Linked DNA regions of Homo sapiens. The protein of the gene in region 1 purifies or fractionates together with the protein of each later gene. This does not show direct contact. Each region holds a gene or a part of one and is shown on either strand. Other genes may lie near its edges.

What was found.
Region 2: the proteins of CCDC60 (region 1) and FAM32A purify together in Homo sapiens (affinity purification with mass spectrometry; 2 studies listed by BioGRID and IntAct, with this or other methods). This does not show direct contact.
Region 3: the proteins of CCDC60 (region 1) and FAM204A purify together in Homo sapiens (affinity purification with mass spectrometry; 2 studies listed by BioGRID and IntAct, with this or other methods). This does not show direct contact.
Region 4: the proteins of CCDC60 (region 1) and DCP1B purify together in Homo sapiens (affinity purification with mass spectrometry; 2 studies listed by BioGRID and IntAct, with this or other methods). This does not show direct contact.

The regions. Positions count from the first base shown.
Region 1 is NC_000012.12:119,533,725-119,540,749, reverse strand, and holds part of CCDC60 (coiled-coil domain-containing protein 60), read right to left. Parts: intron 137-7,025; coding exon 35-136; 3' UTR 1-34.
Region 2 is NC_000019.10:16,180,714-16,188,430, reverse strand, and holds the start of FAM32A (protein FAM32A), read right to left. Parts: upstream 3,022-7,717; 5' UTR 2,989-3,021; coding exon 2,915-2,988; intron 2,808-2,914; coding exon 2,666-2,807; intron 1-2,665. UniProt on the Homo sapiens protein: Isoform 1, but not isoform 2 or isoform 3, may induce G2 arrest and apoptosis. May also increase cell sensitivity to apoptotic stimuli.
Region 3 is NC_000010.11:118,297,417-118,304,341, forward strand, and holds the end of FAM204A (protein FAM204A), read right to left. Parts: 3' UTR 509-6,925; downstream 1-508.
Region 4 is NC_000012.12:1,959,447-1,966,471, reverse strand, and holds part of DCP1B (mRNA-decapping enzyme 1B), read left to right. Parts: intron 1-778; coding exon 779-914; intron 915-7,025. UniProt on the Homo sapiens protein: May play a role in the degradation of mRNAs, both in normal mRNA turnover and in nonsense-mediated mRNA decay. May remove the 7-methyl guanine cap structure from mRNA molecules, yielding a 5'-phosphorylated mRNA fragment and 7m-GDP.

The DNA.
Region 1 (7,025 bases):
CTCCACTGAGACAGCTGGTCAACCCAGGCCCAGCCTACCTCAGGGCGCTGTAGGGCCCAATGGGTATGTTGATCCGGCTCTGCAGCCAGCTGATGTAATCCTCTTGAGGCATATGGATGATGTGTTCTCGCACAAACTGTGAGGCAGACATAGTGGCAATCTCAGAATTTGCTCTGAAAAGTAGACTCCACCTTCTCTCCCTCCCCTCAAGATCCTGGAAGATTTGTGACTGAGACTGGTGGCCCCAGGAATACCATTTGGGCATTCATAATCTTGGAGCATCAGATTGGGGTGGTCCTTTGGTGAAGAGGACCCCTTTCCAGCTTCCTGGCTCAGCAGGCTAATGTTAAGCCCCTTCTTGTTGCTATCGATGCAAGGAAATTTGGGGAGGACAGGAAGTCCCAGCTATCTGCATTTTTCTTTCTTTTCTACTCCTTAATATCTTTTCAAACAGTCATTTGTTGTTAAACGTTTTTGGTTTGTAAATCCGTTTCAGAATTGATGACAGCTATGGGCTTAATTTCCTGGAAAGGGTTTAAGACACACAAAAGGAAGAGTTTCATGTAGACCCCCACATCCAGATTATTAGAAATTCTGTGATGTTGGGTGGCTAGCAAGACGGCTGAATAGGAACAGCTCCAGTCTGCAGCTCCCAGTGAGATCAACACAGAAGGTGGGTGATTTCTGCATTTCCAGCTGAGGTACCTGGCTCATCTCATTGGGACTGGTTAGACAGTGGGTGCAGCACAGAGGGCAAGCTGAAGCAGGGTGGGGTGTTGCCTCACCCAGGAAGCACAAGGGGTCAGATAATTCTCTCCCCTAGCCAAGGGAAGCTGTGAGGGACTGTGCTGTGAGGAACAGTGCATTCTGGCCCAGATACTACGCTTTTCCCATGGTCTCCACAACCCGCAGACCAGGAGATTCCCTTGGGTGCCTACACAACCAGGACCCTGGGTTTTAAGCACAAAACTGGGTGGCCATTTGGGCAGACACCAAGCTAGCTGCAGGAGTTTTTTTCTTATACCCCTGTGGCACCTGGAATGCCAGTGAGAGACAACTGCCACTCCCCTGGAAAGGGGGCTGAAGCCAGGGAGCCAAGTGGTCTAGCTCACTGGATCCCACTTCCACGGAGCCCAGCAAGCTAAGATCCACTGGCTTGAAATTCCTGCCGCCAGCACAGCAGTCTGAAGTCGACGTGGGTTGTTGGAGTTTGGTGGGGGGAGGGACGTCCGCCATTATGGAGGTTTGGGTAGGCAGTTTTCCCCTCACAGTGTAAACAAAGCCACCAGAAAGTTCAAACTGGGCAGAGCCCACAGCAAAGCCACTGTAGCCAAACTGCCTCTCTAGATTCCTCCTTTCTGGGCAGGGCATCTCTGAAAGAAAGGCAGCAGCCCCAGTCAGGGACTTATAGATAAAACTCCCATCTCCCTGGGACAGAGCACCTGGGAGAAGGGGCGGTTGTGGGTGCAGCTTCAGCAGACTTAAACATTCCTGCCTGCCGGCTCTGAAGAGAGCAGTGGATCTCCCAGCACAGCGCTCAAGCTCTGCTAAAGGACAGACTGCCTCAAGTGGGTCCCTGACCGCCATGTCTCCTGACTGGGAGACACCTCCCAGGAGGGGTTGACAGACACCTCATATGGGAGAGCTCTGGCTGGCATCAGGCTGGTGCCCCTCTGAGATGAAGCTTCCAGAGGAAGGAACAGGCAGCAATCTTTGCTGTTCTGCAGCCTCCACTGGTGATACCCAGGAAAACAGGGTCTGGAGTGGACCTCCAGCAAACTCCAGCAGACCTGAAGCAGAGGGGGCTGACTGTTAGAAGGAAAACTAACAAACAGAAAGGAATAGCATCAACATCAACAAAAAGCACATCCACACAAAAACCCCATGTGATGGTCACCAACATCAGAGACCAAAAGTAGATAAATCCATGAAGATGAGGAAAAACCAGCACAAAAAGGCTGAAAATTCCCAAAACCAGAACGCTTCTTCTCCTCCAAAGGATCACAGTTCCTCACCAGCAAGGGAACAAAACTGGGCAGAGAATGAGTTTGACAAATTGACAGAAGTAGGCTTCAGAAGATGGATGATAACAAACTCCTCTGAGCTAAAGGAGCATGTTCTAACCCAATGCAAGGAAGCCAAGAACCTCTAAAAAAGGTTAGAGGAATTGCTAACTAGAATAACCAGTTTAGGAGTCTGTTCCAAGATGGCCGAATAGGAACAGCTCCAGTCTGCAGCTCCCAGCATGATCGATGCAGAAGACAGGTGATTTCTGCATTTCCAACTGAGGTACCTGGTTCATCTCATTGGGACTGGTTGGAAAGTGGGTGCAGCCCATGGAGGGCAAGCCGAAACAGGGCAGGGTATCGCCTCACCCAGGAAGTGCAAGGGGTTGGGGGTTTTCCCTTTCCTAGCCAAGGGAAGCCGGGACAGACTGTACCTGGAAAATCAGGACACTTCTGCCCAAATACTGTGCTTTTCCAATGGTCTTAGGAAATGGCACACCAGGAAATTATATGCGCCTGGCTCGGCAGGTCCCATGCCCATGGAGCATTGCTCACTGCTAGTGCAGCAGTCTGAGATCAACCTGTGAGGCAGCAGCCTGGCAGGGGGAGGGGCATCCGCCATTGCTGAGGCTTGAGTAGGTAAACAAAGTGGCCGTGGAAGCTCGAACTGGGTGGAGTCCACCACAGCTCAGCAAGGCCTGTTGCCTCTGTAGATTCCACCTCTGGGGGCAGGGCATAGCTGAACAAAAGGCAGCAGATACTTCTGCAGACTTAAACGTCCCTGTCTGACAGCTCTGAAGAGAGTACTGGTTCTCCCAGCATGATGTTTGAGCTCTGAGAACAGACAGACTGCCTCCTCAAGTGGGTCCCTGACCCCCATGTAGCTTCACTGGGAGACACCTCCCAGTAGGGGCCAACTGACACCTCATACAGGCGGGCGCCCCTTTGGGACGAAGCTTCCAGAGGAAGGATCTAGCAGCAATATTTGCTGTTCTACAGCCTCCGCTGGTGATACCCAGGCAAACAGGGTCTGGAGTGGACCTCCAGCAAACTCCAACAGACCTGCAGCTGAGAGACCTGACTGTGAGACGGAAAACTAACAAACAGAAAGGAATAGCATCAACATCAACAAAAAGGACATCCACACCAAAACCCCATCTGTAGGTCACCACCAACAAAGACCAAAGGTAGATAAAACCACAAAGGTGGGGAGAAACCAGAGCAGAAAAGCTGAAAATTCTAAAAACTGGAGCACCTCTTCTCCTCCAAAGGATCGCAACTCCTTGCCAGCAATGGAACAAAGCGGGATGGAGAATGACTTTGACGAGCTGACAGAAGTAGGCTTCAGAAGGTCGGTAATAACAAACTTCTCCAAGCTAAAGGAGGATGTTTGAACCCATTGCAAGGAAGCTAAAAACCTTGAAAAAAGATTAGACGAATGGCGAACTAGAATAAACAGTGAAGAGAAGACCTTAAATGACCTGATGGAGCTGAAAACCAAGGCACAAGAACTACGTGAAGAATTCACAAGCTTCAGTAGCCGATTCAATCTAGTGGAAGAAAGGGTATCAGTGGTTGAAGATCAAATTAATGAAATAAAGTGAGAAGAGAAGTTTAGAGAAAAGAGTAAAAAGAAATGAACAAAGCCTCCAAGACATATGGGACTATGTGAAAAGACCAAAACTATGTTTGATTGGTGTACCTGAAAGTGATGGGGAGAATGGAACCAAGTTGGAAAATATTCTGCAGGATATTATCCAGGAGAACTTCCCCAACCGAGCAAGGCAGGCCAACATTCAAATTCACAAAATACAGAGAACACCACAAAGATACTCCTTGAGAAGAGCAAGCCCAAGACACATAATTGTCAGATTTACCAAGGTTGAAATGAAGGAAAAAATGTTAAGGGCAGTCAGAAAGTTCAGGTTACCCACAAAGGAAGCCCATCAGACTAACAGTGGATCTCTCAGCAGAAACTCTACAAGCCAGAAGAGAGTAAGGGCCAATATTCAGCATTCTTAAAGAAAAGGATTTTCAACCCAGAATTTCATATCCAGCCAAACTAAGCTTCATAAGTGAAGGAGAAATAAAATCCTTTACAGACAAGCAAATGGTGAGAGATTTTTGTCACCACCAGGCCTGCCTTACAACAGTGCCTGAAGGAAGCACTAAACATAAAAAGGAACAACCGGTACCAGCCACTGCAAAAACATGCCAAATTGTAAAGACCATCGATGCTAGGAAGAAACTGCATCAGCTAATGGGCAAAATAACCAGCTAACATCATAATGACGGGATCAAATTCACACATAGCAATATTAACCTTAAACGTAAATGGGCTAAATACCCCAATTAAAAGACACAGACTGGCAAATTGGATGAAGAGTCAAGATCCATCACTATGCTGTATTCAGTAGACCCATCTCACGTGCAGAGACACACATAGGCTCAAAATAAAGGGATGGAGGAAGATGTACCAAGCAAATGGAAAGCAAAAAATGGAGGGGTTGCAATTCTAGTCTCTGATAAAACAGACTTCAAATCAACAAAGATCAAAAGAGACAAAGAAGGCCATTACATAATGGTAAAGGGATCAATTCAACAGGAAGAGCTAACTATCCTAAATATAGATGCACCAAATACAGGAGCACCCAGATTCAAAAAGCAAGGCCTTAGAGACCTACAAAGAGACTTAGACTCCTACACAATAATAATGGGAGACTTTAACACCCCACTGTCAATATTAGACAGATCAAGGAGACAGAAGTTTAACAAGGATATCCAGGACTTGAACTCAGCTCTGCACCAAGCAGACCTAATAGACATCTACAGAACTCTCCACCCCAAATCAACAGAATAGACATTCTTCTTAGCACCACATCGCACTTATTCCAAAACTGACCACATAGTTGGAAGGAAAGCACTCCTCAGCAAATGTAAAAGAGCAGAAATTATAACAAACTGTCTCTCAGACCACAGTGCAATCAAATTAGAATTCAGGATTAAGAAACTCACTCAAAACTGCACAACTACATGGAAACTGAACATCCTGCTCCTGAATGACTACTGGGTACATAACGAAATGAAGGCAGAAATAAAGATGTTCTTTGAAACCAATGAAAACAAAGACACAAGGTGCCTGAATCTCTGGGACACACTTAAAGCAGTGTGTAGAGGGAAAATTTATAGCACTAAATGCCCACAAGAGAAGGCAAGAAAGATCTAAAATCAACACCCTAACATCACAATGAAAAGAACTAGACAAGCAAGAGCAAACAAATTCAAAACTAGCAGAAGACAAGAAATAACTAAGATTAGAGCAGAACTGAAGGAGATAGAGACACAAAAAACCCTTCAAATAATCAATGAATCCAGGAGCTGGTTTTTTGAAAAGATCAACAAAATTGATAGACTGCTAGCAAGAGTAACAAAGAAGAAAAGAGAGAAGAATCAAATAGACGCAATAAAAAATGATAAAGGGAATATCACCACTGATCCCACAGAAATACAAACTACCATCAGAGAATACCATAAACACCTCTGCGCAAATAAACTAGAAGATCTAGAAAAAATGGATAAATTCCTGGACACATACACCCTGTCAAGACTAAACCAGGAAGAAATTGAATCTGAATAGACTGATAACAGGCTCTGAAATTGAGGCAGTAATTAATAGCCTACCAAGAAAAAAAGTCCAGGACCATACGGATTCACAGCCAAATTCTACCAGAGGTACAAAGAGGAGCTGGTACCATTCCTTCTGAAACTATTCCAGTCAATAGAAAAAGAGGGAATCCTCCCCAACTCATTTTATGAGGCCAACATCATCCTGATACCAAAGCCTGACAGAGACAAAACAAAAAAAGAGAATTTTTAGACCAATATCCCTGATGAACATCGATGTGAAAGTCCTCAATAAAATACTGGCAAACCGAGTCCAGCAGCAAATCAAAAAGCTTATCCACCACGATCAAGTCAGCTTCATCCCTGGGATGCAAGGCTGGTTCAACATATGCAAATCAATAAACGTAATCCATCACATAAACAGAACCATCGACAAAAACCACATGATTATCTCAATAGATGCAGAAAAGGCCTTTGACAAAATTCAACAGCCCTTCATGCTAAAAACTCTCAATAAACTATGTATTGATGGAATGTATCTCAAAATAATGAGAGCTATTTATGACAAACCCACAGCCAATATCATACTGAATGGGCAAAAACGGGAAGCATTCCTTTTGAAAACTGGCACAAGACAGGGATGCCGTCTCTCACCACTCCTATTCAACATAGTGTTGGAAGTTCTGGCCAGGTCAATCAGGCAAGAGAAAGAAATAAAGGGTATTCACTTAGGAAAAGAGGAAGTCAAAATGTCCCTATTTGCAGATGACATGATTGTATATTTAGAAAACCCCATTGTCTCAGCCCAAAATCTCCTTAAGCTGATAAGCAACTTCAGCAAAGTCTCAAGATACAAAATCAATGTGGAAAAATCACAAGCATTCCTATATACCAATAACAGACAGAGAGCCAAATCATGGGTGAACTCCCATTCACAATTGCTACAAAGAGAATAAAATACCTAGGAAACCAACTTACAAGGGATGTGAAGGACCTCTTCAAGGAGAACTACAAACCACTGCTCAACGAAATAAAAGAGGACACAAACAAATGGAAAAATATTCCATGCTCATGGATAGGAAGAATCAATATTGTGAAAATGGCCGTACTCCCCAAGGTAATTTATAGATTCAATGCTATCCCCATCAAGCTACCAATGACTTTCTTCACAAAATTGGAAAAAACTACTTTAAAATTCATATGGAACCAAAAAAGAGCCCGTATTGTCAAGTCAATCCTAAGCAAAAAGAACAAAGCTGGAGGCATCACACTACCTGACTTCAAACTATACTACAAGGCTACAGTAACCAAAACTGCATGGTACTGGTACCAAAACAGACTTATAGACCAATGGAACAGAACAGAGGCCTCAGAAAAAACACCACACATCTACAA
Region 2 (7,717 bases), on another chromosome or scaffold:
TTCTTTAAAACTATAGCTTTGGTTCCCCCTCCCTCAACTCCCACTCCAGAAAACCTGCTTTACCTGCAATCCTTCCCACCCCAGTAAACAGCACCTTCATTCATCAAACTGCCCAGCCCAAAGTCTTGGTCATCCTTGACTCTTCTTTCTTTCCCAGCTTACATCCAACCCAACAGCTAACCCTGAATTCATCCTTGAAAACCTATTCCAAACCTGTTACCTTCCACTGGCTCCATCACGACTGCTCTACTCTGAGCTCCCATTATTAGTCTCTTAATAGCTGCCTAAGTCTCGCATAAGTCTCATTCTGGCTTCCAGCAATAAAATCTCAGCCCTGCCTCTGACTACAACCTCAGGGTTAGAAGGGAAAGAAATGCATTTACTTGGCCAGGCATGGTGGTTCACGCCTGTAATCCCAGCACTTTGGGAGGCTGAGGCGGGTGAATCACTTGAGGTCAGGAGAGCGAGACCAGCCTGGCCAACATGGTGAAACCCCGTCTCTACTAAAAATACAAAAATTAGCTGGGCATGGTGGTGGGCGCCTGTAGTCCCAGCTACTCAGGAGGCTAAGGCAGGAGAATCGCTTGAACCCAGGAGGCAGAGGTTGCAGTGAGCTGAGATCATACCAATGCACTCCAGCCTGGACAACAGAGCGAGGCTTTTTCAAAAAATTAAAAAAAGGCCGGGCGTGGTGGCTCACGCCTGTAATCCCAGCAATTTGGGAGGCTGAAGCAGGCGGATCACCTGAGGTCAGGGGTTCAAGAACAGCCTGGCTAACGTGGTGGAACTCCATCTCTACTAAAAATACAAAAAAATTAGATGGGCGTCGTGGCAGGCGCCTGTAATCCCAGCTACTCAGGAGGCTGAGGCAGGAGAATCGCTTGAACCCCGGAGGCGGAGGTTGCAGTGAGCCGAGATCGAGCCACTGCATTCCAGCCTCGGTGACAGAGCCAGACTGAGTCTCACTGAGACGGAGTCTCACTCTGTTGCCAGCCTGGAGTGCAGTGACGTGATCTCGGCTCGCTGCAACCTCTGCCTCCCGGGTACTGGTTCAAGCAATCCTCCTGCCTCAGCCTCCCAAGTAGCTGGGATTACAGGTGTGTGCCACCATGCCCGGCTAATTTTTGTATTTTTAGTAGAGACAGGGTTTCACCATGTTGGCCAGGCTGGTCTTGAACTCCTGACTTCGTGATCCGCCCGCCTGACTTGTTAAATCCTTACCACAACCCTGTGAGGCAGACTTTAGTGCTACTTTAAGTAATAGGTAGCCGGCTTGCCCAGGGTCACACCACTAATTTGTGGTAGAGGCAGAGTCAAACTCAGGTCTGTCATGCCAGAGGTAGTGCATCCATGTGTTTTCTGTATGCCTGAATTAGATCTGGGAGTAAGGAGTTAATTGTCCCCAAGGTCCATTTTCCCCAGTGTCACCGTACAGAATCACCTAGACCAGGGTTAGGGTTTCTCAGCCTCAGTGCTACTGACATTTGGAGCCGGATCACTCTTTGCTGCGGCAGGCTGTCCTGTGTATCGCAGGGTGTGTGGTGTCATCCCTGGCCTCTAGCCACTAGTTGCCAGTAGTCCCCACCCCAACCCAGTTGAGAACCAAAAATGTTTCCAGACATTGCCACATGTGCTTCGGGGTGGGAGTTTAGGGGGGTGGAGACTACCCCCAGGTGAGAATCACTGACCTACACTGATTATTCCCTCTCCCCAGCATAATGGACCCAGTTTCTGTCTTACTGTGAACTCTTCTGTTCTCCACTGCACACATTTATGGTGTTAAGAAAAAATAATTTATCGGAGCCTTATAATACAATACAAACAAAGTCGTCATGGGCATGGCCATTCAATATCAACAGCTGAGACTGGGTGCGGTGGCTCACGCCTGTAATCCCAGCACTTTGGGAAGCTGAGGCGGGCGGATCACTTGAGATCAGAAGTTCGAGATCAGCCTGGCCAACATGGTGAAACCGCATCTCTACGAAAAATACCAAAATTAGCCAGGTGTGGTGGCGGGCGCCTGCAATCCCAGCTACTCGGGAGGCTGAGGCAGGAGAATTGCTTGAACCCCGGAGGCAGAGGCTGCAGTGCTCTGACCCCGCCAAAAATAACTAATTTTTTAAAAAATACAGCATGTTTGAATCTGCCAAACAAAGTTGTCTTGGAAACAAACTTTGTGGTGACTTCGAGCGGCGAGCATGGCCATTTAATATCAAGAGCTGGCATCCACTGAACATGTATGCACTGCTTTTTACTTTCATGACTTCCTCTCAAGTTCCCAACCCTCTTAGAATAAGTTACTACCCTGACTCGTACAGAAGAGGAAACTTGAGGCACGGAAATAAGAAAGTCACTGGCCTAGTGTCGCAGGGCAAATAAGCCACAGCACTGGAATCCAAACCCGGGTCTCCAGCTCTGGCCTCCTTTCAACGCCAGTTCTAGCTCTCCCCTCTGCTGCCCACTCGGGCCAGCGGGGTCTTCTCATCCTTGGAGCTCCCCCGGCAGAGGGCGACTCTTCTCTCACTCACGTACAGCATCCTCTCCCCGTAATTAAGGTCTCCTCTGACCGCTCCCCTGCCCTCGGAGCGTCCCAGCCCTGACCCCAATTTCCAGTCTCCCGGCGCCGGGTGTTCCCGCCTCCCCGCCGCCTTCTGCTTCTGCTCACCCGCTTCTCCTGCATTTTCTCGAAGGCCGCCTGGGCCGGGGTCCGCTTGTCCAGGCCGCGCCGCTTCTCCTCCTCGTTCTTTTTGCTCGTTCCCATTGCTTCCAGGAGTTTCGCTTTGTCTTTGTCCTTCTTTTTCTTCTTCCTGGAAAAAGACATGAGGAGGCGGCGGGTCGGAGGATCAGGGCCAGGGGTCCCGAGAAAAGGTCTAAGGGGGATGAAGACGGAATCCCGCGGGCCCTCGGGCCTCACCGCTTGGTCACTCCCAGCTCTGCGACGCCTTTCAGCTTCAGGGGTCCCTTTTGGACCTGCTCGTAGGCCTCCATGACACTCTCCAGTGCTTCGGTAGCTGGAGTGCCACACTTCCTGTTTGCAAACACTATTTCCGCCCGAATGGCCGCCTCGCTTCTCTTTGATTGGCTGAGCTACAAGGTGAGCATGCGCTCTTGGTTCTGGACCCGGGCCACACTTCCGGGTAGTGGGCGGGACAGAGAGCCAAGCGAATGAGTGCCCTTCGATTCCTATCTGCTGCCACACTTCCGAATTTGGCGCCCACTTCCGGTCTCCCATTCTTCACACAGGGTGCTGGAAACCCAACCCCTTTTTGAGCGTTTTGCGCACTTTTGGGTGACCTGTTCTCTCTCCTTGATTTTTTTTTCTTTTTTAGAGACACGATCTTGGTCTGTCACCTAGGCTGGAGTGGAGTGGCGCGATCGTGGCTCACTGCAGCCTTGAACCCTTGGGCTCAAGAGATCCTCCCGCCTCAGCCTCCCCAGTAGCAGACTGCAGACGGGCGCCACTGAGCGCGGCTAATATTTTCATTTAAATTTTTTTGTCGAGATGGGGTCTCGCTGTGTTGTCCAGGCTGGTCTCGAACTCGTGGGTTCAAGTGATCCTCCTGCTTCGGCCTTCCAAAGCGCAGGGATCACAGGCCTGAGCCACGCCCCACCACCCCCGTTCTCTTTTATTGCCATATTTTGAGCGTTCACTGGATAGCTGAACCTAATTTTGTAAACCTAATCAGTATTCATTAATTTTTCAGCTTTAGGTAAATGACAATATCATGTGACAAGGTTGGTGGTATGTTAAAACAATTAAAAATCTATTTTATGCCGGGCGCGGTGGCTCACGCCTGTAATCCCAGCACTTTGGGAAAACGAGGTGGGCGGATCACGAGGTCAGGAGATGGAGACCATTCTGGCTAACACGGTGAAACCCCGTCTCTACTAAAAATACAAAAAATTACCTGGGCGTGGTGGCGGGCGCCTGTAGTCTCAGCTACTCGGGAGGCTGAGGCAGGAGAATCGCTTGAACCCGGGAGGCGGAGGTTGCAGTGAGCTGAAATCACACCACTGCACTCCAGCCTGGGCGACAGAGAGAGACTCCATCTCAAAAAAAAAGTACATATATATTTAAATCAGCACTTTGGGAGACCAAGGTAGGCGGTTCACGTGAGGTCAGGTGTTGGAAACCAGCGTGGCCAACATGGCGAAACCCTGTATCTACTAAAACAAAACAAAACAAAACACAAAAAGCAAAAATTAGCTGGGCATAGTAGCCTGCGCTTGTAGTCTCAGCTACTTGGTAGGCTGAGGCAGGAGAAGCGCTTGAACCCGGGAGTCGGAGGTTGCAGTGAGCCAAAATCGCACCACTGCACTCCAGCCTGGTCAACAGACAAAGACTCCGTCTCAAAAAAAAAAAAAAAAAAAAAAAATCAATAGAGATAGGGTATTGCTGTGTTGTCCAGGTTGGTCTCAAACTCCTGTCCTCAAGCAGTCCTCCTGAAGCATTAGAATTACAGGCGTGAGCCACCACCCCTGGCCCTTTCTTTCTTTCTTTTCATCCTTTCAGTACTGTGCGGTTTTCTTACATACGATGTGTACATGCATATATCTTTTTTTTTTTTTTTGAGACAGAGTCTCGCTCTGTTGCCCAGGCTGGAATGCAGTGGCACGATTTTGGCTCACTGCAACTTCCACCTCCCAGGTTCAAGAGATTCTCCTGCTTCAGCCTCCTGAGTAGCTGGGATTACAGGCGCCCACCACCATGCCCCGCTAATTTTTGTATTTTTAGTAGAGATAGGGTTTTGCCATGTTGTCCAGGCTGGTTTCGAACTCCTGAACTCAGGTGATCCGCCTGCCTCAGCCTCCCAAAGTGCTGGGATTACAGGCGTGAGCCACCGTGCCCGGCCCTTGAATATATCTTTTTAATGTCAGCAGAGGACTATCGGAATTTTTGGTTTCTTCTCTATTTCCCTCTGTATCAAAAACCTAGTAAAAAAAAAAACTATTATGGGAAAAATTTAAAAAGGCTGTGCCTACCAAGTATCTGTGAAGATGTGTTGAAACTGGAACTCAAACGTGCTGCTGTTGTGAATGTAAAATGGCATAAACAGTTTAGAAATCAGTCTGACAGTTCTTTAAAAGATTAAGCATTCACTTATACTATGACAAAAGAATTAGATTCCTACGTTTTAACCCAAGTGAAATGAAAGTATAGACCCATATAAAATTGTGTAAATGAATGTTCACTGCAGATTTATTTGTAATAGCCAACAAATTAGAAACAGCCCTAATACTGCCCTAGATAAATGAATGAACACAATCCGTGCCCACAAATCTTGGCTGACTTTTGCAACCAATGGAATTACTAGGTCCAAGGTTATGCACGTTTGCACGTTTTATTTCTCATAGATTTTGTCCAAATTGTGCCAGGGTGGCTTTTTTTTTTTAATTGCTGGCGGGGGGTGGGGTAGTGGGGAGAAGGCAAAGGAGGTGGAGAAGAGAGAAGCAAACGTCCCCAAATCTACCGGACACAAGAAAAAGGAGGGCACAGGGGCTGCCTTTCTCAGTCTTACCTGCAGGGGGCAGCAAGTCACTGCCTAATTATCCGTCCACACCTGGAAAAGACTGTGCAGAGGGGCTTCTGGTACCAGGGGATGGGGGCTGCCAGCACTTTTGTGTCAAAAGCAAGGCGATCTTTTTGCCGGGCGCGGTGGCTCACACCTGTAATCCCAGCACTTTGGGAGGCCGAGGCGGGCGGCTCACGAGGTCAGGAGATGGAGACCATCTTGGCCAACATGGTGAAACCCCGTCTCTACTAAAAATAAAAAAAATTAGCCGGGCGTGGTGGCGCGAGCCTGTAATCCCAGCTGCTCAGGAGGCTTGAGGCGGAGAATCACTTGAACCCGGGAGGCGGAGGTTGCAGTGAGCGGAGATCGTGCCACTGCACTCCGCCCTGGCGACAGAGCAAGACTCCGTCTCAAAAAAAAAAAAAAAAAAAAAAAAGAAAAGAAAAAAATTAGCCGGATGTGGCGGGGCACACCTGCGGTCTCAGCTCCTCGGGAGGCTAAGGCAGGAGGATCACTTGAGCCTGGGTGTAGGTGTTCGAGGGTGCAGTGATTTAGGATCTTGATTGATGCACTCTAGCTTGGGCACTAGAGCAAGACCCTATCTCAAAAAAAAAAAAAAAAAAAAAAAGGAAAAGAAAATGATTATGTTGAGTCTTGAATACAAATTAAAAAAAAACTACAAAAAAAGAAAAAGAAATAGTAACGTGCCAATGTTAAATTCTTAGTAGTGCTAAATATGCTGTGGTTGTGTAAGATGTTAACATTAGAGCCGGGCTCAGTGGCTCACACCTGTAATCCCAGCACTTTGGGAGCCGAGGCGGGTGGATCATTTGAAGTCAGGAGTTTGAGACTAGCCTGGCCAACATGATGAAACTGCGCCTCTACTGAAAATACAAAAATTAGCCAGGCGTAGTGACGCACACCTGTAGCCCCAGCTACTGGGTAGGCTGAGGCAGGAGAATCGCTTGAACCCAGGAGGCAGAGGTTGCAGTGAGCCGAGATTTTGCCATTTGCTATTTCACTCCAGCGTGGGTGACACGGTGAGACTACATCTCAAAAATAAATAAATAAATAAATAACAAAAAAAAAAAACCATTAGAGGAAGCAGGTCAAAAGGGTTATGGGAGCTGTCTGTATCATCCTTGCACTTAAATTAAATTAGTTAATTTGTTTATTGAAATGGAGTCTCACTCTGTCACCCAGGCTGGAGTGCAGTGGCACGATCTTGGCTCACTGCAACCTCGACCTCCCAGGTTCAGGCAATTCTCCTGCCTCAGCCCCTGCAGTAGGTGGGATTACACACATGTGCCACCACATCCGGCTATTTTTTTTTTTTTTTTTTGAGACAGAGTCTTGCTCTGTCATCCAGGCCGGAGTGCAGCAGCGCGATCTCGCTTACTACAACCTCTGCCTCCCAGGTTCAAGCGATTCTCCTGCCTCAGCCTCCCGAGTAGCTGGGACTACAGGCACATACCACCACGTATGGCTAATTTTTTGTATTTTTAGTAGAAATGGGGTTTCTCCATGTTGGCCAGGCTGGTCTCGAACTCCTGACCTCAAGTGATCTGCCTGCCTTTGCCTCCCAAAGTTCAGGGATTACAGGTGTGAGCCACTGCGCCCAGCCCATCCTTGCAATTTTAATGTAAATTTAAAATTATTTCAAAACTAAAAGTTTATTAGGAAAAGAAAGAGGCTGGGCATGGTGGCTCATGCCTGTAATCCCAGCACCTTGGGATGCTGAGGCGGGTGGTTCCCCTGAGGTCAGGAGTTCAAGAACAGCTTGGCCAACATGGCGAAACTCTGTGTCTACTGAAAATACAAAAATTAGCCAGGCGTGGTGGCAGGCGCCTGTAATCCCAGCTACTCGGGAGGCTGAGGCAGGAGAATCACCTGAACTTGGGAGGCGGAAGTTGCAGTGAGCCGAGGTCACACTACTGTACTCTAGCCTGAGTGACAGAGCAAGACTGCAAGACTCCATCTCCAAAAAAAAAAAAAGGGAAAAGAAAGAATCTGTAAAGGAATTAAGTGAGGGTGGGGCTTGACTTTCTAGCCAGCTTTGCAATAATGTCAGGCTTGCTGAGTGAGCTCCCACTTCAGGAATGTAGCTAAGCGCATGGGATTCCACACCCCCATTCCTCACATCCTAGGGGATTTTCTTCCTAGCCTCTGCCTCCATTCTGTGAGTTTTGAAGCGGATGCTTTTA
Region 3 (6,925 bases), on another chromosome or scaffold:
GTTGTGCAACTTCTTTGCATGTAAGCTTCCTCGTGTGCAAGATAAGGATAATAGCATATACTTCACAGAGTTGTAAAATTAAATAAGATAATGCTTAAGAAGTAATTAGCATGGTGTTGGGCACATAGGAAAAAATGGCGGTTCTATCTCAGTACATGTGAGGATCTGCACAGACTGTGAAACTGACACCTGTCACACCGGGCCTCACACCCTGGCAGGTATCACGATAACGAAGTTGGTCCACCCTTGCCTGTAGGGTGTCAATTACTCCACAAGCCAGGTATCTGGCTGGGTACAGCTGAGCCTGGAGTCCCTTCCTGTTAGAGCGCCCTGAGCAACATATATCATACTCTTCTTATCCAGATGAAATTGCACTTAGAGCACCAAAGGCAGCCTGAAAGAACACAAATCTGAAAGGGGCAACCAAAAGCGGTGTTTCTCTAGCTGTACAGGAACAGTATTAGAGGTGTGGGTGGTGATAACAGCAACAATAAAGTAATAATTATACTTAGCTGCAATTGACCATGTTTTATTGCTGAATTGTCACAACAGCCCTGACCAAGTAGTTATTATTGCCCTCCCTTACAGAACAATGACCCAAAAAATTACCCAAGATCAGACTAGTGAGTAGAACCAGTATAGAAACCTAGTTATCTGCGTATTCCATCCTCTGGGCAGCACACTACTGCCATCTCCTTTATCTTAAATGTGTGTGGGAGTGAGAGAGCTAACGTTACGTGTGGCTTTAAATTTTTGAGCCCCAGTCCCTGGAACTAACCCATCTACTTTCCTTGAATCTCTTCCTAGACAGGCCCCCTGAGCCAGACAGGAAATCCACTGGTATTTAAAAAGATAGGTTGTGTGCATGGTACATGACAGGCTAGCAGTAACTCCCTTCATCCTGATTTTCCACCCTCTTTCTGGGTACCTCAGTGTCCTCTTGTTGTAAAAGTCATTAGGTATGTTTAAAATCCGAATGCGATGTGTATCTGAATAAAGACGCTTATTCTCTCCTACCAGTTACTCTTCATTTTTATGTGTCAGAAAGCGTTCCTTGCATAAACAGGTGTTATTTCCATGTACTTTTGCTCAGGTTCTTTGGATACCATGATCTTAGCTATCTGCAAAGCTGACCAGGGCTAGAACTCCATTTTACCACCTCTGACATCCACTCTTTGCCGATAGAGAAACTTGCTTCAGGACAAGATCTAGCTTGGAGCAGGTCGTAGCAGAGGACAGACATTTTACAATGTACAGAGATTATTGTTACGTCCACATTATTATTTTTGGCACTAGGAAACATGAGGACCAGTGATGAAATGTCTGGGGAAGAGGTTTCAGTCAACTGTCACTATCTTCGGCATCCACCCAAGAGTGATCTAACCTTTGCAAAGCCTTCACTGATTCGGGAACCTCAAATGCGTTTTCATTGTTAGGTTGCACCGTTAATTCTCTGTTGCATTACCTATCCTGTTTAAAAAAATAAAACAATCTAAGAAGGCAGATAATGTTTAATGGAAAAGGGCAGCGATGGACTAATGGTTGCCTAGCAACCACTAGACATTGTTTTGCTGCTTCACTCTAGAGAAGCCAAAATGGCGGCTGTAATCCTTCTCTGGCCCCCTGGACAGTGTACGTGTGAGTGACGGTTCCCTCTGGGCCCACATCATTTTCTTGTCTTGGGCAGCAGATCATTCCTTTTTCAGCTTCCAAATGGGGAAAACTGTCTGCCTGATTCTTGAGTATGCTAATGCCTACACTTTCATCTTCTCAGAAAATCTATGGCTGAACTTTTCAGGTTCTTCCTTTGGGCAGTACTGCTTAAGTGTTTTCATACCACTCTCCATTTCCTGCTTTGAGCTGCCCTTCCTGTCAATCAATTACCAACCCTGCTTCTGTATTTTTTTTTGAGGTCAAGCTAGGTACTTGACATGATTTGGTTTTGGAAAACCTCCTCCTTTCTGCTTCCAGAAGGTTTTTTTTTTTTTTTTTTTTTTGAGACAGGGTCAGGCTGGACTGCAGTGGTGCGATCACGGCTCACTGCAGCCTCGACCTCTCGGGTTTAAGTAATCCTCCCACCTTAGCCTCCCGAGTAGCTGGGGGACTACAGGGGTGTACCACCACATATGGCTAATTTTTTATTTTTTGTAGTGATGAAGTCCTGCTGTTGCTCAGGCTAGTCTTGAACTCCTAGGCTCAAGCAGCTCTCCCTCCTCGGCCTCCCAAAGTGCTAGGATTACAGGAGTCGGCGACCACACTTGGCCCAGAAAGGTCTTGAGTGCTCATTCCCTAAGGCCGAGGAAAGCTTGACAATTATTGGACAACTGGGTTTTCTCACAACTAGAGAATGGAAGAGAAGAGAAATATGGTTACAAAAAGTACAAGTGGAATCTTCAGAATTACAAGCATGATCAATAAGACTGCATGAACCTATTTTTACTAACAATTTTTCCATTAGCACGTCTTGAAAACCACAATTCTGCTATCAATAGGAATCTAAAATACTTGAATTGCTTTAATCCTTTGCTATCCCTAAATCACAAGTAGATTGGAAGTGGGTCTTGTGTGGCCTTGATTATAGAGGAACAAAGTAGCAACTGTATTGAGGACCGTCCATGACAGCTTGCTGATTTGGGGGAGATGAGTGGGATGTGATTTCTTGGCCATCTTAATGGGCTGGACACCCTAGAATGGAAGTGTTTAAGCAGGGTCCTCTAGAAGGAAAAGTTCAGGTGGTTTCTGAACCACGGAAATTGTGTGCAAAATGCAGTGCTTATGTTCACATGTCCATCTTTCTAGAGAGAGGGTCTGTAGCCCCCAGCAACTGAAAAACCAGTGGCACAGAGGGAGATGAGGAAATGAGGAGCTTTGGGAAAACTTGGCTTTCAAAAAAATATACTGAGGATGATTTAATGCAGAAATATCTTGAAAGAAAAGATGAAAGGACGTATTACTTCTTTTGTTCACTCAAGCCAATTAAATCAACAAATATTTACTGAACACCTACCATGTATGAGTCATTGAGAAATATCCTAGGAATACAGTCATGAAAATTGAATGGCCCATTAGATCATGGTGGTGTAGCCTAGGGCACTGATTAACATTGGCTGAACACATATTATATGCTAGGACTATTATGCACATTAATAAAATCATCAAAAACCACATAAACTTCAAAGCAGTATATATCATATTAAATCTCTAAGTATATATCCACTGAGAGCTGTCTGACTCTGAAGCCAGTCCTTTAGCCACCCACCTATAGGAGCTTAGCCCTGGGGAATTCTTTGGGCAGAATCCAGGGACATACTGAGTTGGGGTTTGGTGGTTCCAAGGAAAGCAGCTTCCACCTGAAAGGAAGTACAGTACTGGGGCCTTACTTCCCTAAAGACCCAGGGAGGGGAGAGAAAGTGCTCTGCTTGTATCCTAAGCACAAATGCAATACAGCAACATCAGTAATGGTAACTGAGTGCTTACTGCATGCCAGACCCGTGCTAAGCTCTCTCCATGCACTATCTTAATGTTCACAACCTCACACAGTAAGCATTATTAACAACAGCACTTTACAAATAGAAATTTGTTGAGGCTCAGAGTTGCCATAGCTGGTGAGCATCCACAGCCTACATTCAAACCCAAGTTTCATTCCAAAGCTTTGCTTTCCTGCTGCTGTATGTCTTTTGCGTCATCTTCGCATATTTAACCTCCTTGGCTCAACTGGGAACTCTTTGAAGGCTAGGGCCATCAATTACATTTTTGTTTCTTCCAGAAAATTGGCACGTACTGTGGAGTAATAACAACATTAGTACTAACAAACACTTACACACTTTCACAGAATTGTCAAGGACTACGAAGGGTCTGAGATTTCACCCTACTTGCAACTTAGCAAGTCAGTTGGCCAGTTTTACAAATGCTGATAGAAGACACTAGACTCTCAGTTCAGACATTTACTCACAACAGAAATAGCCATCAGCATTTTTGCATTGATTCCTACAGTATGACAGTTAAGAGGGCCAAAAGACACCTGTATACTGCATGACTTTCATTCAAGAACAGGAACTCTGAGTTAGGAAACCGAATCTTTTGTAATGGGAGTAAGCATGTCTGTTCTTTGCTCTAGAGTGAGACACTATCTCAATCTTCCAAGGATGTTATATACAAACATCCTTGCAAAGATAGTTTGGAACAAAAGGGTACTTAGTGCCTTGCTTCCAAGACGTGTAGAAATGCAAGAATTGTCCAGAGAATTGTCTCCCAACAAGTATATTGTTTGCTATATGTGAGAATCTATTCTCAGCACTTTCATATTCATTAGTTCCTTTAATCCTCACATCTCTATAAGATAGCTACTATTATTATCTCCATTTCTCAGGAGAACCCAAGGTACAGAGAGATTAAGTAGCCTGCCGGAGGTTACACAGCTTGTAAGTAGCAGAGCTGGGATTCAAATCTGGCTTGCTTCATAGTCCAGGGTGTAGCAGTTTCACTATTCTAACATTTGCTGGCATCAGCAACACACCTGCCTCCGTCCTTTTTCTCCAAAGTTTATCACCATATGAGAGTCCAGTGGTTCTCACACTTCAACGTCCCATCAGAAGATACAAGGTCTTGCTACCACAGTTGAATTCACGTCTGGCCTGGCGCCTGAGCACTTGCATCTCTATATTTCCTAGGTGATGTTGTGTGACACTGCAGAGTCTGCTTATTATGTCTTTCCCTCTAGGATATGAGCCCCATGAAGATCCAGCCGCTTTGTTCAGCGTGGCATCCTCAGTGCCTGCTGTAGTGCCAGACACATCACAAGCCTTCAATGCATTTATTGAAATAATGAGAAAAGGAAATGCAGGAAGAGGGATCCATTTCTTCCAGATTCTGTTATCTGACCTTAACCTTGGAAAATCCTCTAGTGCCATCCTGGCAGTTAAGGCCCTTGAGCAGCCGTCACTGCCACAGGCTACGGAGGTAAAGGAAGCAGCAAAACAAATCTTGAAAAAGGCAGCTTGCTCCTGATGGAGCTGCATGAGTTACAAGGTTTTTAACTGCAAGAATTGTTGGAGCCACTTCTGGTAATATATGAATTTCATAAAAATGTTTTCCAAGGTGCACAGAAACATCTGAGGACTTTAATTAAGCCCTCCACCATCGGGAATGGAACTTTTATGTACATGGACTTTGGATTTTCTTTTTCTCTTTTTGAGCACTGCTGGCAAGGAAGCAAGTACCAAGCGAGGATTCCAATTGAGTTCTTTGACACGGAACCTTTCTTTTCCTTTTTTGGAAAATGGAAGTAATGTACTAGTACAGGCAGTCTGTTTGGGAATATGAGCGTTTATATTAATGGCATTAAACTCAGTATTTATACCACAAGGCACCTCCTTCCCTATGGTTTGTGATAAGACATGTGCAAGTTGCACTGACTTGCTTTCCTCTTTCCCATCCCAGACTCCCCGTGTAAGAAGCGGGTGCTGCTCCAAGACAATGAGTCTTCTTTGTATGCACTAATTACAGAGGAGCTTTTGAAAATGTGGAATCCCAGGCCCTGCCCCCAGAGAGGGACCCTGGAGTTTACATTTTTAACAAGTGATTCTGCTTGCAGGAGGGCATGGATCCCACTTCAAGAACCACTGGAATGGGGTAGGGAAGAGGCAAAGGCCTGGCCTGCGTTCTAACGTCAGCCCTTTTATGCTAGATGAATGGCTGTAGAGTTCTCTTAAACTTCCCAGCACCTTGATTTCCTCATCTAAAAAACAAGTATAATGTGTCTTTGGCTTTCTTAGAGGAATAGTGCAAGAGCACTGTATGGGAAGAGTAATGAAAGAAGAATTTCAGATTTTCAATCTGCTAGACATTTATACATATGTAGAACCAAGATGTCCCTCCAAGGCAAGGAGCATAAATAACAATGAATCCTCAAAGTGTTTTTAAAAAATTTACAGAACAATAACAGTACTTCTAAGGCTTATATTCTCAGTCATGATTATTTATTAAATAGTTTAACTGGAAGGACCAGGTATGTATCCTCCACCCCTTCCATCCATCCCTCCTTTCATCCCATGTAAAATGCTGGCCTGCAGTGACTGACTGACTGAGACTGATACCGGGTTTAAAAGCCAGCTCCAGCCGGGCGCGGTGGCTCATGCCTGTAATCCCAGCACTTTGGGAGGCTGAGGTGGGCGGATCACAAGGTCAAGAGATTGAGACCACCTTGGCCAACATAGTGAAACCCTGTCTCTACTAAAAATACAAAAATTAGCTGGGCGTGGTGGTGCATGCCTGTAGTTCCACCTACTCGGGAGGCTGAGGCAGGAGAATTGCTTGAACCTGGGAAGCAGAGGTTGAAGTGAGCTGAGATGACACCACTGCACTCTAGCCTGGCGACAGAGCAAGACTCCGTCTCAAAAAGAAAAAAAGAAAAAAAACAGCTCCTTTGCCACAAGCAGAGTTCACAGAGCCCTCTTCCCCCAGCACAAGGCCAAGGCTTTACCCCTTTCAGGCATTCCCCTTCCTCATGGGCTTTGCTCCCTCCCTTACAAATGTTTCCTGAAGTGCATACTTTTACAAATCACCTCCACAAGAGATCTGAGGCACTGTTTCTAGGAAATCCAACCTAAGATTGCAATTGCACCATCTATTGCAATTCTGGTCTGGATGTCTGATTTGGCCAAGATCACCGGTGCCATCTGATGCTAACTCCAACAGCCACCTCTCCACCATTATCTTGCCTGACAGCTCAGCGGCATTTGTTCCTGTTGACATGCCACCTTTCAAGACCTCTTTCATCGACCTATTTCTGCAACCTCCCTCCCTTCTGACCTCCAGGTTGCTACATAGAAGTGTCCATTTGACATTTCCATGGCATTCCACAGGTACCATGACACAACAAGTATAAATATGACCTACTTTACTAAATACTAAATGTCTAACTCTA
Region 4 (7,025 bases), about 120 Mb from region 1:
AATAATAAGAATGTGAGCTGAAAGTTACAGCACATAAAGGGAAAGTATATTTTCCTCGACATCACCTAGCAGCATATAGGAGCAATCTGGTCTATCTTTGTATTGTTTTCCAGGCAACAGAAGAACTCCTCGTTGCTCTAAGTGGTTTTTTAAATGGCCCCTCTTCTCCGAGTTAGAATGGAATCTTTACCATGTTTTGAAACTGCCAGAGAGCTGCAGGATTTGAGTTGCCAGAATCAACCTTGCCTTGACTTCAAGGCAGTCTGTAAAGTAGGGGGTTCTTTCCTCAGTATTTCAGAACTCTAAATTGGGTTTCCTTAGCAACTAATGAGAGCATCCTTTAGAATGCACTGTGTGAGGAGTTGGCAAACTCTTCTCAAAGGGACCAGAGAGTGAGTATTTTAGGCTTTGCAGTCCATAGGATTTGTGTTCCGACTATAGAATTCTGCCCTTGTAATGTGAAAGCAGCCATAAACAACATGTAAACAAAGGAGCATGGCTGTGTTGAGCTTGGCTGTGTTTGTGACTTTCTTTACAAAAAACAGGTGGTGGGCTGGACTTGGCCCACAGATTTGCTGACCCCTATCCTAGATTCATTTGTGTAGTCAGTGAATTCAGGACCTCAACTCTCATTTTTCTCCTTTAAATTCCTAAGCAAGCTTATTTCTAATATGGTTGTAACAGGATGAAAACAACTAGGTGAGAATTGGGATGGTTTTAAACATTGTTTGTGTTGAATTGGCTTTTCTTGTGTGGATTTTCCCCTCTGTTTTTCTAGCCTAACTCAGTATGAACAGTTGAAAGCCCATCAGGGAACTGGAGCAGGAATTTCCCCAGTGATCCTCAATTCAGGAGAGGGCAAAGAAGTAGACATTTTACGAATGCTCATCAAGGCCAAAGACGAATACACAAAGGTGAGTGTTTGCCCTTCCTTGTGATACATACACACTTCAGTTCCGCAGTGGGAATATTCTTGTTTAGCAAGACTAGGTACTGTGGATGCTGTTCCTTCCACCAAACAAAATTATATTACAAATAAAAAATCTTTATTTGTAATATAGATTTTTTATAAGCTGAAGAAAACTGTTTGCCTTTAAGTGGGTTAAAAAATAGCCTGAGAAATCAGTAGCCTTCATATATACAATAGCCTTCATGTATACAATAACCTTCATATACACAACTGGTAGTAAGTCTTGTTAGACTTACTGCAAGACCCCAACTTACAGTAGCAACAAATGAATATAAAATTGTTTGCAATAAAATTCACGAGAAATGGGCAAAACCTATATAAAGAAAATGTTTAAAAACTCCTGAAAGGCATAAAAATAGACTCAAACAAATGGAAATATACACCCTGTTGTTGGATAAGAAGATTCAACATAAAGCTCTTAGAAAAAAAATCTCTACATTTAAGGTGACCACTAAATAAATACCACTGGTTTCTTTTCCCCTCCCCTCCCCACTTCTCCCTTACTCTCTGATCTAGACAAGTTGAGTGTAAGGCTCATGGAAAGAAATATGCAAGAAAGAATAGCTGGGAAAATCCTGGCAAAGAAGTGTGATATTAGTAGGGGTTGGAGGTGGGGGAGATGAGTGGGGGGATGGAGCGAGCTCTCCCTGATTTTAAAACATTGAAGTCAACATTTCAAACAGTATGGTGTTGATGGTATTGATACCTAACAGCCCAATAGACCAATGGGACAGATTTAAGATTCTAAGTCTAGGATTAAATCCAATTGTATATGAAATCTAGGATATGATAAAGATGATAATCTCAAGTCAGCTATTTGAGTGAATTCCTAAATAAATGGTGTTGGGGCAACTGGTAGCCATTTGGAAAAATACAAAACTGAGTCTGTACCTTACAGCATACACCAGGATAAATTCCAAATGTATTAGAAATTTAAATGTAAAAATATAATGATTCAAGTACCAGAAGAAAATTTGTATGGATTTCTTTATAATCTAGGAAAAGAGAAATCTTTCAATTATGCCTAAAAACCCAAAAGCAATTAATTAAACTACATAAAAATAAAAAACATTTTACAAGGTTTAAATACAACACAAGCAAATAGAAAGATACAAAAACAACTCAGAAAAAAATTGTTGACACCAGAATGACAGGAAGGTTATTTTATGAAGAGCTCCTAAAAATTAAGAAGTACAAGATTAACACTAGAAAAATGGGCAAAAAATAAAAATTTTTAAAAATTATAGAATTTGGAAACTAGCTGAAATAAATGTATGTAATTGAATATCATATTGTCACATAATTACTTAGAAAAAAAATTAGAGTGACTTCAAAGCCCGCTGCTTGAACTGAACACTCTTAGTGGGTTATATTTTAAGGACAAAAAGAACTGCAAGACATTATAAACTTCATTCATTGGTTTTATTGTTTGTAGTAATGTTGGCATTTTAATTTTTCTACTGTTGGCATTGTAATTTTTCTACTGTTGTGGATATAATAAATATGAAATTAGATAAACGTGGTTGGAACCAAAACCTTAGTGTAAGGGGAAAAAAATCAAATCTAATAAGTTAAAACTACATAAGATTAAGTGGAAATATCAGAATTAGTTCATGTTTTGTTTCTTAGGTATAAAAACAAAAAATAGAGTTTCTCACTCTTGCCCTGAAAGGACATAAAAATAAAAGTGACTAACTCAGTAGCAGTAAGCATCTATATCACCCAGATTGTTGTTTCGAAATATTACTTCCTTCCAGAAGGTGTCAGGGCTCTTCAAAGAAATTTCTGATTCCAGGTCTGGAATAGTAAAACCAATAGGGTCATGTGAAAGGACACAGAAATCAGCTTCAAGGACACTGACCAGAGCACCACATTCTAACATCAACAGGAGTGACTACAATGGATTAAACCACATTGAATGTATAAAAATCTATGAGTTCCTGGTAATGAGAAAGAGAACAAGCAAACCAAACATATAAAACCAAGCAAAATAATTATTAGTTATCCGTTTGAAGGTGCTAAGGCACCAACTCCTTCCTCTGAAAATTGATAATTAATGGGAATGAAATAAGCTTTTATCCTGCCTGCCCTAAAGGGACTATATCTCAGAGTAATCAAACAGCCCTGGTCAATGAGGGAGAGCTGTTCTCTACCAGAGAATTCCAGCTAGTACGTGTGGAGAGAATAATAGAACTTAAAGACACTCTGCTTAAAATAATTGACTCAGGCAGTGATCATCAGTAATATTAATGTTATGGGAAAGGTTGATAGAAACTTGACAGTGGAAGGATCAGGCTGCCTCCTCCTGAACCCCGCTGATTATCATCATTAAAAGTTAGATAACCAGATTCTCTGGCTTCCTAATGTGATAAGATGTCAAATGTACAGCACCATCTTGAAATATTCTTGCCCAAAGAGTTGATCCTGAATCTCATTAAGCCTTGAGCTCTAACTTTTTAGTTTACAGAAAGTGAAAGTGGGTGGGGAGTGAGGGGAGACAAGGTAGAAAAACAAATTAAATGATGCTATGAGGAAGCAATCAGAAAAATCCTGAATGAAGTGGCACATATAGGCAGTTAGACAAGTTTCTTTAACATGCTTTGCCTTGACTGTGAGCTTCTTGAGTACGAAGAACATCCTTTATTCACTTTTATATCCCTTATTGTCTTCAAAGTACTTAGCACATGGTGAGTGTTAAATAATGGCTATTGAGTGAAGGAAGGAATATGAATGTGAATGAGCCACAGTTTAATTATCCTTCTATTGTATGGCCTGGACAGAGATGCCTTAATCTCAGCTTCAGACAGTAACTATTCTGTATTCATTTTGTGTTTTTTTAATTCTTCAAAAGTCATTAAAAAAAATTATGATGACTTGGCAACTAGTTGAATAATTAGTTATACTTTATTAATTATACTATATTATGCACACTAAAGATTAATCTTCAAAAGGTGACATTTCTGCCCTCCAGGAACTTAATGTTCTGTGAAGACAGTGTAACAATGGTAAATAAATACAAATATTGAAAAAAATTATTTTCCTTTCTTTCCCTCCCTCCTCTCAACACACACATACCTTGTATTGTTTCTGTTTTTTATCTTCTATATGTTATAATGTTTTGACATCTTAAAATCCTTTCTGGCTGGGGAGACTGCCCCTCCTGTGACCAGCCAGTGTTCAGAGATAGCAAAGGGCTTGGCCAGGAGCACGCCTTTAATATGCACACTAACCAATCCTGAGCCATACGTATCTCCTCGTCTCTGGCCTGTACAATATTCCTCTGCCTTAATCATCCCAGGGCCAGGTACCCAGCAACTGGGGACCACTCATACAGTTTAGAGCCTGCTGGAGTTATTCAAACTGGCCAATCTTAACCTGTTTACCATGCCCTGCCTTGCCTTCCTTGAGGAAATTCAGTAAATGCTCTAGCCTACGCCTTCCCCTTGCTGCTGACACCCTGAGGCTTCCACACGTGGCCCTGTGCAGCGTGGCATGCCTCTTGTCTCCAGGACCTGTGAGTATAATAAACTTTGTTTTCCTGAGACTCTCCTGTGTCTCCTCTCTGGCCTCACTTGAGTGACCATCACATAAAAGAACAGCACAAGCACACACATTCTCTGTCTCTCTCAGAAACACTCATATACGGTTCTGGAGATTTAATTTAGGCCATCACTTTATACTGTGCCTATGTCTTGGAATATTTTTCCCCTTACTTTATTTACCCTTCAGAATTTACATATCCTTTAAGGCTTAGTAAAAATGACACTTTTTACGTGGAGTTTTCCCAGGTCTCTTCAGTCAAATTAATTATTCTTCCATGTGAACTCAGTCTATTACTATTTAAAACTTATTTTGTTCTTCCTCATTTATTACATTAAGTCAACTTCTCCCAGTACACTGTAAACTGGTTGAAGTTAAAACAATGTTCTGTTCATCTTTATGCCCTCACAGATTTGTTATAATGTTGACATGAAGTGCAGACACTTAATTCGTGTATAGAAGGTGCTTTTCTGTAAAAATCAAATACATGTTGTTTTATGCGTAATGTCAGTTGCTCCAACTGTGAGATAAATAATAGAGGAAATTATTTCTTCTTCCATTAACAGCCAGATGTTGTGATACAGTGTGCCAGGACACCTGCATGATCACGCTACTTTCCTAGTCTCCGTTTTTCTTGGTTTGTCATTGCCCAGTACAGGAACCCTTGGAGTCTTCAAGCCTTCCCTAAGACGGCCTCAGTTTGTTCTTCTAACCCTACTACCCTCTACAAATATTTGAAACTCCTGCCAAACAGAATACTCATTTTGCTTCCTGAGAGTGCTTTCATGACTTTTCTCATACTGTTCCCACCCCTTCTTCACCCATCAAAATATGATCCAGCTTTCAGGGCCTGTTTCAGATGTTCTTTTTCCATCACCTTATTTTTGGCCGGCCTAACTAGGTGTGCATGCACCCTGCTAGCTGCCAGTGCCTTATGTTTGGAAAGAGCATTCCATCGCCTTCTTACATTGTGTTGTCTCTGCACTCACACACAGATATTTCAGAAAATGTGGAGACCCTGAGTAAAGTGGTTCTGAGACAGAAGAAAGGGGGTGAAATGGAAAGGTAGCGAGAGAGAAGGAAAACAGAATGTTCCTTCAGAGTTCTTGTTGGGAAGTGAGTCTCCGTTACTTAAAGTGTTCAAGAAGAGATTGAACAGTTACATATTGGTGATGTGATAAAAGAATTTGGCTTGTGTTGGATAAGTATTAAACTAAAAGACTTCTGAGATGGTTTTCAGTGCTAGACTTACTTTTATTGAAGTTTTCTTTTTAAAATTATTTTCAATGAAAAATTAAAATTGTATATATTTATGTATGGTATACAACATGATATTTTGATATGCATGTATATTATAGGGTGCCTAAATCAAGCTAATTAACACATGTATTACCTCACATATTTATCATTTTTGTGTGGCAAAAATAATTAAAATCTACTCTTTTAGCAACTTTCAGTATACAATATATTAGTACTAACTGTAGTCATCATGATGTACAATAAATCTCCTGAACTTATTCCTCCTGTCTAATTGAAAGTTTGTATCCTTTGACCAACATCTCCAAAATCCTCCTACCCCCAGCCTCCGGCAACTACCAGCCTACTGTGCTTCAGTGGGTTCAGCTTCTCTGGATTTCATGTAGGAGTGAAATCATGCAGTACTTGCCTTTCTGTGCCTGGTTTATTTCACCTAATGTAATGTCCTCCAGGTTCATCCATGTTGTTGCAAATGACAGAATTTCCTTCTTTTTTGAGGCTGAATAGTATTCCATTGTGTTTATACACCACATTTTCTTTATCCATTCATTCATTGATGAACACTTAGGTTTATTCCATATATTGGCTATTGTAATGTTGTGGTGAACACAGGAATGCAGCTATCTCTTCAACATACTGATTTCATTTTCCCTGGATATATACCCAGAAATGGGATTCTTCGATCATGTGGTAGTTCTATTTCTAATTTTTTGAGGAGCCAACATAAATTTTTTTTTTTTTTTTTGAGACGGAGTCTTGCTCTGTCACCCAAGCTGGAGTGCAGTGGAGCAATCTTGGCTCATGGCAAGCTCTACCTCCTGGGTTCACGCCATTCTCCTACCTCAGCCTCCCAAGTAGCTGGGACTACAGGCGCCCTCCACCATGCCCGGATAATTTTTTTGTATTTTTAGTAGAGACGGGGTTTCACCGTGTTAGCCAGGATGGTCTCGATCTGCTGACCTCGTGATCCGCCCGCCTCAGCCTCACAAAGTGCTGGGATTACAGGCGTGAGCCACTGCACCTGGCCCAACATGCTATTTTCCATAATAGCTATGCTAACTAATATTCCCACCAACAGTATACAAGGATTTCCTTTTCTGTACATCCTTGCCACCACTTATGTTTTGCCTTTTTGATGGTAGACATTCTACCAGGTTTGAGGTGATATTTCACTGTGGTTTTAATTTGCATTTCCCTGATGATTAGCGATGTCGAGCATTTTTCACATACCTATTGGCCACATGTATGTCTTCTTTTG